Homo sapiens: one gene and its partners. The gene in region 2 interacts genetically with the main gene of each other region. Each region holds a gene or a part of one and is shown on either strand. Other genes may lie near its edges.

Evidence for each region.
Region 1: changes in HDAC3 (region 2) and SREBF2 together harm fitness more than expected from each alone (negative genetic interaction), as found in Homo sapiens cells (one large-scale study listed by BioGRID).
Region 3: changes in HDAC3 (region 2) and ACACA together harm fitness more than expected from each alone (negative genetic interaction), as found in Homo sapiens cells (one large-scale study listed by BioGRID).

The regions. Positions count from the first base shown.
Region 1 is NC_000022.11:41,871,037-41,874,691, forward strand, and holds part of SREBF2 (sterol regulatory element-binding protein 2), read left to right. Parts: intron 1-2,761; coding exon 2,762-2,983; intron 2,984-3,655.
Region 2 is NC_000005.10:141,630,328-141,633,982, forward strand, and holds part of HDAC3 (histone deacetylase 3), read right to left. Parts: intron 1-3,655. UniProt on the Homo sapiens protein: Histone deacetylase that catalyzes the deacetylation of lysine residues on the N-terminal part of the core histones (H2A, H2B, H3 and H4), and some other non-histone substrates.
Region 3 is NC_000017.11:37,396,746-37,400,400, forward strand, and holds part of ACACA (acetyl-CoA carboxylase 1), read right to left. Parts: intron 1-3,655. UniProt on the Homo sapiens protein: Cytosolic enzyme that catalyzes the carboxylation of acetyl-CoA to malonyl-CoA, the first and rate-limiting step of de novo fatty acid biosynthesis.

The DNA of each region.
Region 1 (3,655 bases), on a different chromosome or scaffold from region 2:
TAAGAGCTGCCTTCTCCCCCACCCTCCTCCCTCCCCCTTTATTCCTGGAGGTGTTAGTCTTCAGAGATGTTAAATCTCTATATGCTGAGTAGGTATGGGAGGGTCTATAGCACAAATCAGTCAAATTGTAAATGTCACCCCTCTTAGTTGTTTTTCGCTCGAAAAAGTATTAGCAATGTGTGTTCGATGTGGGAGTACTGGAGTCTACAAGGAGGTAGAAAAGAATAGCAGAAGGACCCTCTATTCTTGGCTAATAGCTCCACACAAGACCATTCACCTCTTAGATCCTGCTGATGACTTCTGAAGGACCCTAGGGCCACCAGGCAGGGAAGGGCTCCAAGGTGAAGAACATGGAAGGTACCCCATCCTTCAGTTGTAGGTTCTTAGCCACTTTCAGCATCCTATAGCATGAGAATCTGATAGAGTAAATGGTGATTAAAATTTAGAAGCACTAGCTTTATTCATAAAATCCAAGAACTGGAAGCAACTCAAATGTCCATCCACAGGAAAATAAGCACATTGTGATATATTCATACAATGAAATTATGCCTAGCAATTAAAAAACAGAACTGCTGACAGGCACGGTGGCTCACGCCTGTAATCTCAGCACTTTGGGAGGCCAAGAGGGGTGGATCACCTGAGGTCAGGAGTTTGAGACCAGCCTGGCCAACACGGTGAAACCCCATTTCTACTAAAAATACAAAAATTAGCTGGGTATGGTGGTGCATGGTGCATGCCTGTAATCCCAGCTACTCAGGAGGCTGAGGCAGGAGAATTGCTTGAACCTGAGAGGTGGAAGCTGCAGTGAGCCGAGATCGCACCACTGCACTCCAGCCTGGATGACAGAACGAGACTGACTCTCAAAAAAAAAAAAAAAAGCTACTGATGCATGAAACAACATGGGGCTGTCCCTCAGAAATAGTGTGTCAAGCCACCGGGCGCAGTGGCTCACACCTGTAATCCCAGCACTTTGGGAGGCCGAGGTGGGTAGATCATGAGGTCAGGAGATCGAGACCATCCTGGCTACCATGGTGAAACCCCGTCTCTGCTAAAAATACAAAAAATTAGCCGGGCATGGTGGCGGGCACCTGTAGTCCTAGCTACTCGGGAGGCCGAGGTAGGAGAATGTCGTGAACCTGGGAGGTGGAGCTTGCAGTGAGCCAAGATTGCGCCACTGCACTCCAGCCCGGGCGACAGAGCAAATCTCCGTCTCAAAAAAAAAAAAAAAGAAATAGTGTGTCAAGCCAAAGGAGTTCATGCTAATGAGTCCATTTATATGAAGTTTAAAAAGAGGCAAAATGAAGCTATGGTGCTGGAATTCAGAGCGGTGGTGACAAGGAGGGGAGGGGCATGCGGGGACTTTCTGAGCTGGTAGAAATGGGCTATATCTTGGTCTGGGTGGTTATATACATTGTGTACATATGTAAAATTCATCAAGCTATAAACTTAAGATTTGTGGTTTTTATTGTGCATGACGTACTTATTGGCAACTAATGAAATTGGGCACCTTTTTATTTATTTATTGGCTGATTAGATATTGAGGCCATTATTTAAGAAATTAAACTAAAATTGGTCCAGGCCCAGTGGCTCACGCCTGTATTCCCAGCATTTTGGGAGGCTGAGGTGGGCAGATCACCTGAGGTCAGTAGTTTGAGATCAGCCTGGCCAACATGATGAAATCCCATCTCTACTAAAAATACAAAAATGAGCCAGGTGTGGTGGTGGGTGCCTGTATTCCCAGCTACTCAGGAGGCTGAGGCAGGAGAATCACTTGAACCAGGGGGGTGCAGGTTGTAGTAAGCTGTGATCACGCCACTGCACTCCAGCTTTTGGGCAACAGAGTGAGACTTTGTCTCAAAAAAAAAAACAAAAACAAAAAAACAGGACGTGGTGGCTCACGCCTGTAATCCCAGCACTTTGGGAGGCCAAGGCGGGTGGATCACCTGAGGTCAGCAGTTTGAGACCAGCCTGACCAACATGGAGAAACCCCGTCTCTACTAAAAATACAAAATTAGCCAGGCATGGTGGCGCATGCCTGTAATCCAAGCTACTCGGGAGGCTGAGGCAGCAGAATCACTTGAAGCTGGGAGGCAGAGTTTGTGGTGAGCCGAGATCACACCATTGCATTCCAGCCTGGGCAACAAGAGCGAAACTCCGTCTCAAAAAAAATAAAATAAAATAAAATAAAGTTAGAAAAAATAAGAGGAGAAAACAGAGATGAAGAATAAAAAGGGGAGACCTCCATGGTTGGCCTATTTACTTAATCAAATGGCTCTTATTGAGAGTGTCACTTCTGCCCTTGAGCTTTTTGATGGCAAAATTGTATAAAGAAATGCAGTAATTTGCTTAATTGTCATTTGAGAGGAAAAAATGTGTCATACACTAGGAGAAAGTTTTCTCTGGTGCCAACTCGTGGTTCACCGTGTACAACTTTAGAAGTGGTTAACAGTTTGACAGCAAAGCAGAAATCATATGACTTGTTTCTGGCATACGTAGATCAAAACTTAAAACATATTTAGCCATGTTAATCCTCTTGTGGTGTAGTTTATCAGCAGTGATTCTTGAAGGGAGGTAGTAACCAAGGTTCCGTGGCTCCTGAGACTTCTTGGGGCCTGATTTGATTAACCCAGGAAGAGTCTCAGACCTCATGAAGTACTGCCAGGTCTGGCAGCACTTGGCCAAAGCGGGCAGGTCTGTGTTGAGGTTGCTTTATGCAGACTAACAAAGGGATCATTCTGCTGTGTACCTGTCCCTATTCTAGACCCTGGTGGGCAGCAGTGGGACCATTCTGACCACAATGCCTGTAATGATGGGGCAAGAGAAAGTGCCCATTAAGCAGGTACCTGGGGGAGTCAAGCAGCTTGAGCCCCCCAAAGAAGGAGAAAGGCGGACAACCCATAATATCATTGAGAAACGATATCGCTCCTCCATCAATGACAAAATCATCGAATTGAAAGACCTGGTCATGGGGACAGACGCCAAGGTGGGTGCCAAGCAAAATTGTGTTTTATGTTCCACCATCTCCCCTCTACCTGTTTTTGCCTCAGGAGCCTAGAGAAGTCCCAGGCTCAAGGTAAGTGAATACAAGACCGAGTTAGAGGTGCTTTTTTATTAAAGCATCTTGGTGTCATGTCAAGATTATAAAATATTAAAAAACATAAGGGACTGGTGAGGGTTGATAAGGCAGTGACCCGCTGAGACCTTTGACTCCTTTGGCTATGCTCTGCAGTGATGGGGACTCCACTGTCAGAGGCAGAGAAAGATGCCTGCCACTCAGTAGTTCCAGATACAGGACTGTGTGTACCTTGGAGTCAGCTGATGGCATAGTTTTAGCTGTGTTTAGGGGTTACCTTTTAAGGAAAAGAAAGAAAAAAGAGGTTGAGTCTTTGACCAGCAACACATAGAGGAAACTGATGTTCCAAATGTTTCTGGTGTTTCAGTGTATGTGTCTTCTAGAAAGTAGGAGATTTTATTTTTAAAACCTATCTATGTTTAAACCCTATTTTGAAAGAAAATTTCATTTTCCTTGCCTACAAATCTGAAAGCTGTACATCCTAAGTAAAAATCTATGCCTTAAGATAACTGTCCAGGCTAGGCACTGTGGCTTACGCCTGTAATCCCAGCACTTTGGGAGGCTGAGGCGGGTGGATCACGA
Region 2 (3,655 bases):
GAAGTAAAGAAGCACTTAACTGTCAGGGAGTTTGTATCCTAGCTGCGGAAAGAAGCAAGCAGCTTCCAGGTACTCAAGTACAATGTAAAAAGGAAATCAGTTGAAAGAAAACATGAGCTCTGTTTTTCTTAGTCTTCTCAGTGTAACAAATTTTAGCATAATGTTCAATAATATTTTTCAGTCACATATTTTAAAGAAAGAACTGTATACCTACATATGTGAAACAGTGATGAGATAACCCACGAAAAGCCTGTAGCACAGTATACAGTATCCGCTCAGCCTTTAATAAATGTCAGCTATAATTATTACCATTGTTATTCTTTATAAAAAGTAAAGGCTTGAAGCCAGACACAAAAGCCTACTTACTGTATGACTCCATTTATGTAACATTCTGGAAAAGGTAAAATACAAGGACAGACATCTTATCAGTAGTTGGCTGGATCTAGGTTGCAGAGAAGTTATTAACTACAAAAGGGTGAGTGACCTTTGTTGGGTAGTGGAAATTTCCTGTACCTTGATACCTTTTTTTTTTTTTTTTTTGTAGAGACAGGGTCTCACTATGTTGCCCAAGCTGGTCTCAAACTCCTGGGCCTAAGTGATCCTCCCGCCTTGGCCTCCCAAATTGTTGGGACTACAGGTGTGAGCCATCGGCGCTGGCCCTATACCTTGATATATTCTATCAAACCTCTCAGAACTCTTACACCTAAAAAAGGTTAATTTTACTGTATGCAAGTTATACCTATATAAACCTGACTTTTTAAAAAGGAAAGGCTTAGGCAATCCCTAGTTTTAGGTCTCAAAAAAAAAAAATAGTGCAGCTGATACATTTGACCATGTGAAAAACAGAACTGTAGGGGTTTTTTGTTTGTTTGTTTTTTGAGATGGGGTCTTGCTCTGTCGCCCAGGCTGGGGTGCAATGGTGCGATCTCGGCTCACTGCAGCCTCCGCCTCCCGGGTTCAAGCAAGAATTGTAGGGTTTTATAGTTTCTCAAAAGGCTTGGAAAGAATTAGTGATTAATACCAGAAAACTAAGCAAATGAAAAAATAATGCAATTGTCAGCTCCAGGAAAAACAAAAAGCTTTAGAAGAAAATAGATTAAATCACACTACACTATTTGGCTTGATAGTAAATGAATCTTTCAGAGTTATAATAATGTAAACACAGAATACTGATTTATTTTTAAATTACTATGAAGCTGAAAGGGGAAAGGAAGCCAATGTGATGGTGTAAGAAGACTAAATGCTCATATCCCATACTAAAAGCTTAACAGATAATGCCTAAAATTGACAGACGAAGAAATAGCAATGAGAGACAATACAGGAGGGGAGTATGATTACAAGCACCGATTCTGGAGCTAGACTACCTAGGTTCTTTAACACCTACTAATGATAGTGAGGTTGTACAAACTGTTTAACCTTTCTGTGCTTAAGTGTCCTCATCGGTAAAAGGAAACAATAATAGACCCTGCTTCATAGGGGTTGTTGAGATTAAATAAGCTAATGGCTGTAAAGCACTTAGAACAGTACCTAGTATATAACAGGTATTACCTAAGGATTACAGATTAGTAATAACAGTCAATTAATATTATTATTTAGAAATCCAAAGGTAAATACCAGAAGACATAGGGGAAAGGAGCTGAAAGTGGCTGTCACTGGGCAGAGGGATTTATGGGTGAAAAGGAGAGGTCTGGAATTTTTTTTTTTTTTTTTTTTTAAGACAGAGTCTCACTCTGTTGCCCAGGCTGGAGTGCAGTGGTGCAATCTCAGGTCACTGCAACCTCCAACTCCCGGGTTCAAGCAATTCTCCTGCCTCAGCCTCCTGGAGTAGCTGGGACTACAGGCACGTGCCACCACACATGACTAATTTTTGTATTTTTAGTAGAGATGGGGTTTCACCATGTTGGCCAGGCTGGTCTTGAACTCCTGACCTTAGGTGGTCCACCCGCCTCGGCCTCCGAAAGTGCTGGGATTACAGGCGTGAGCCACTGCGCCCGGCTTGGGACTACTTTTTTATTTTTTTCATTTAAAGGCCTATAGTACAATTTGGCTACTTATGTTAGAATACTTTGAAACCAATCAGAAATTCATTAAACAGAAGAAAAATTCCTGATTCTCATCGGAAATACAGATAAGCACAACTGTAACTTGTTTGACAGGAAGACTGATGCAGCATAAATAGCCCAGAGATAGTATTCTAATTAGCATTCCCTAATCGCACAAAGAGCATCTACGGGACCCCAGTGTGGCGTAAGGGCTGACCCTGTATTCACAGAGCTAGAAAGTGAGCTCAGAAATAACAGCAGGAATACTAACAAAAAAACAAGAAACCTCCCCAAACAGCATGTGACTGAACACCAAATGAGCAGTGCAGTGTGTGCAAGACAGAGCTCTATGGGCTGGTGTGGTCAAGAAAGGTTTCATGGAGATGGTGTGAAGGCTGAGAAGGCCTTGAAGAGGTTGAATAGAGAACTAAGGGCATTCCAGGAAGGCATCCTGTGCAGCTGAGGTGTAGGGATAAAGTTGGAAAGGTGCCAATGCCAGCCTAATGAGTTGGCCTCTATCCTACAGCCCTGGCTGCTTCTGTCATTAAGATCTTTCAGGAAAACAGATTAGTGGTTTAAAAACCCGGGATCTGGATCATGCCCCCTCCAATGACCAGTTATGTGACTACGGCTAAGTTACCTAGATATTCCCAAACCTCAATTTACTTATATATAACATCAGAAAAAGGTCTATTATAATACATCTAAGGATTGGTATGAGAATTAAGTGGATTTACCAGCAACCCTTGGCATAATACCTAGCAGAGTAAGCACTCAGTAAATGGTAGCTATCATAAGAAATTCTACAGGATCAACAACCTGGTTTCTTCAAGAAATAAATTCAAGGGGGTGACAGAAAAGCTACAAATTAAAAGTCTTAAGAGACATATCAACCAAATGCACTGTATAGACCTTGTTTAGATCTGGATTTAAATTAGCTACAAAATAATTATGAGACAACTGCAGAAATTTGAATATTGATCCCATATTTGATGACATTAAGGAATCACTGTTAACTTTTTAGGTTTGATAATGATACTATGTTTTTTTAAAAGAGTATCATTTAGAGATACATAATAAAATATTTATGGATAAAAGGATATAACATCTAGGATCTGCTTTAAAACAATCTAACATGAGGGAGTATAGATGAAGTAAGAGTGGCCACTTGCTCAGCTGGGTGCGATGGCTCACGTCTGTAATCCCAGCACTTTTGGAGGCTGAGGCTGGTGGATCACCTGAGGTCAGGAGTTCAAAACCAGCCTGACCAACATAGTGAAACCCCATCTCTACTAAACATACAAAAATTAGCCAGGCATGGTGGCAGGCGCCTGTAATCCCAGCTACTCGGGAGTCTGAGGCATGAGAATCGCTTGAACCCAGGAGGCAGAGGTTGCAGTGAGCCAAGACTGCACCACTGCACTCCAGCCTGGGCTACAGAGTGAGACTCTGTCTCAAAAAAAAAAAAAAAAAAAAAAAGAGTGGCCATTTGCTCATAAGCGTTGAAGCTAGGTGATGGACGTATGGGAGGTCACTGCACTACTTCACTTTCAGAAATTTTTGAAATTTTCCCTAATAAAAAGTTTAAAAACAAAAGTAAGTAGAATTGAGCA
Region 3 (3,655 bases), on a different chromosome or scaffold from region 2:
TGGACAGGTTGAGAGTCCTATGATCCCTTCCTCCCCATCCCACTGATACTCCACTCCCACTTTCAAAAAGTATTCCATTTTCTGAGTTGACACAATGGCCCTCAGGTTGCCTTGAATTACTTATCTTCCCTATTATTAGTAATAGTAGTAGTAGTATTATACTTTAAATTCTAGGGTACATGTGCACAATGTCCAGGTTTATTACATATGTATACATGTGCCATGTTGGTTTGCTGCACCCATTAACTCGTCATTTACATTAGGTATTTCTCCTAATGCTATCCCTCCCCCATCCCCCCACCCCACGACAGGCGCTGATGTGTGATGTTCCCAGCCCTGTGTCCAAGTGTTCTCATTGTTCAATTTCCACCTATGAGTGAGAACATGCGATGTTTGGTTTTCTGTCCTTGCGATATTTGCTCAGAATGATGGTTTCCAGCTTCATCCATGTCCCTACAAAGGACATGAACTCATCCTTTCTTATGGCTGCATAGTATTCCATAGTGTATATGTGCCACATTTTCTTAATCCAGTCAATTACTTATCTTCTTATATGTACTTACTGGTTCTTCTGCTTGAAGCCCAGTATCTGTGTTAATTTGTATATCTCTATATTACTTTGTATCAACAAAGCACCATGTTCATAGCAGATACTAAAAATATTTGTTGATAATGTCACACCACCAAATGGATAAGCTAAGGGTAGCATAGCTGACTTTCTAGAAGAGAATGAAGTAAGCTTTATTTTTATATCAAAGTTGCTATCAGTTACCAGGGAGATGCAAACCAGTAAAGGGTCATACTATAATTGTTGCTAACACTTGAATTCATCTCTTTAGACTTATTTTCCCTCATATTTCATCATCTGTTCCTTTTTCTCTTCCTCTTCATTATTACAACACTTTTCTTTTGTCTTTCCTTATTCAATGACCTGATTTGTCAGTGATCAAATTCTAAAAATTTCCCTCAATCTGAACTTCTAGTGAACTTCGATCCATGTTTATACTGAAATTTCAGATCCAAAAAGTCTTTCCTTTACCCCACCCTCCTTCACTTGGTGCAGTGTAGCAACAGGTGCACCTTGGACCGTAATTGAGGAACTTTCACTGGACTCTTGTGAATTTGCACCATCCAGTGGCTGAAATTGCTAACTGCATCCTCTGAAAAAAGGCAGTGGGCACAAATAAAAAAATGTAAAATGGGGGCTGGGCGCGGTGACTCACTCCTGTAATCCCAGCACTTTGGGAGGCCGAGGCAGGTGGATCACAAGGTCAAGAGATTGAGACCATCCTGGCTAACACTGTGAAACCCCGTCTTTACTAAAAATACAAAAAATTAGCTGGGCGTGGTGGCGCGCGCCTGTACTCCCAGCTACTCAGGAGCCTGAGGCAGGAGAATCACTTGAACCAGGTAGGCGGAGGTTGTAGTGAGCCGAGATCGCACCACTGCACTCCAGCCTGGGTGACAGAGCGAGACTCTGTCTCAAAAAAAAAAAAAAAACAGTTTGGCCTCCTCTTCTAGCTGTTGTGGTATCACTTTTTTTTTTTTTTTTTTTTTTGAGACGAAGTTTCGCTCTTGTTGCCCAGGCTGGAACGCAACGGTGCAATCTCAGCTCACTGCAATCTCCGCCTCCTGGGTTCAAGTGATTCTCCTGCCTCAGCCTCCCGAGTAGCTGGGATTACAGACATGCGCCACCATGCCCTGCTAATTTTGTATTTTTAGTTGAGATGTGGTTTCTCCATATTGGTCAGGCTGTCTCGAACTCCTGACCTCAGGTGATCCGCCCACCTTGGCCTCCAAAAGTGCTGGGATTATGGGATTACAGGCGTGAGCCACCATGCCCGGGCTTTTTTTTTGAGACAGAGTCTGGCACTGTTGCCCAGGCTGGAGTGCAGTGACACGATCTCAGCTCACCGCAACCTCAGTCTCCTGAGTTCAAGCGATTCTCCTGCCTTAGCCTCCCGGGTAGCTGGGATTACAGGCGCCTGCCACCATGCCCAGCTAGTTTTTGTATTTTTAGTAGAGACAGGGTTTCACCATGTTGGCTAGGCTAGTCTCGAACTACTGACTTCAAGTGACCCACCCACATCAGCCTCTCAAAGTGCTGGGATTACAGGCGTGAGCTACTGCATCGGGCTTTCATCATATCCTTATGAAACGCTTATGAATTAGACATTATTATTTTCATTTTACATAGGAGGAGAAAGGAGATGCAGGAAGATAATAACTTCCCTAAATTCTTTTTTTTTTTTAGATGGAGTTTCACTCTTGTTGCCCAGGCTGGAGTGCAATGGTGGGATCTCGGCTCACGGCAACCTCTGCCTCCTGGGTTCAAGCGATTCTCCTGCCTCAGCCTCCCAAGTAGTTGGGATTATAAGCATGCACCACCATGCCCGGCTAATTTTTTATATTTTTAGTAGAGATGGGGTTTCACCATGTTGGCTAGGCTGGTCTCGAACTCCTGATCTCAAGTGATCCACCCGCCTCAGCCTCCCAAAGTGCTGGGATTATAGGCATGAGCCACCGCACCAGGCCCTAAATTCTTAAAGGTGATAAGGAGTGGAGACAGAATTCAAATTCAGGAAAGTTTCAAAGTCCATGCTTGCTTTTTCAATTATATTAAACAATGCCAAGTTCCTTGCATATTCCAAGCATTTATTGGGCACCTGTTGGTTGCACAAGAGTATAGACTGCCTGTCACCAAATGATGCAAAATAATTTAGGAGCCTGTTTTGACAGTCACAAGATGGAGGTCCTGTACATTAGGCAGAAAAGTATGCAGCTAGGCAGCCTAGTAGGCATTTTAGAATTGTCTGATAAACCGAGCCACTTAGCAACAATATATTTCTAGTTCACCTAATTTTTTGGGTTCTGCCCAAAGGCTGGTGACTCATGAGACAGATATTCCGCACTCTGTGTACATGAGAAAGAAGTCAGTAAGGTGAGGAAGAAGCAGAAGAGATGGGTAACGAAGGCCTGGATTCACGAAAACTGTTTAATGGCCATGGTATTATGAAAATCCTGATGCCAGCCAACTCTTGAGTGTTAAATAATGAGAGTCAGTTTATTAGTTATATTTGGACAGATCTGGTTTTTTGCTTTATTTTTATAAATAATGTTCTAAGAAATTTATTTTATTTAATTTACTTATGGCATATTTAAACATTTTTTGGCAAATAAAAATTGTGTATATTCATGATGTACAACATGTGTTGATAGATGTACTCATTGTGGAATGGCTAAATCAAGCTAATTAACAAATCCATTACCTCAAATATATACCCATTACCGCAAATACTTATTTTTTTGTGTGGTAAGAACAACTAAAATCTACTCTCTTAGCAATTTTCAAGCATATATATATTTTTGTTTGTTTGTTTGTTTTTGTTTTTGAGACAGGGTCTTGCTCTGTTGCCCAGGCTGGAGTGCAGTGATGCAATCTTGGCTCACTGCAACCTCTGCCTCCCGGGTTCAAGTGATTCTCATGCCTCAGCCTCCTGAGTAGTTGGGATTACAGGCATGCACCACCACGCCTGGCTAATTTTTGTATTTTTAGTAGAGATGGGGTTTCACCATGTGGGCCAGGCTGGTCTCAAACCCCTGACCTCAGATGACCCACCTGCCTCAGCCTCCCAAAGTGCTGGGATTACAGGTG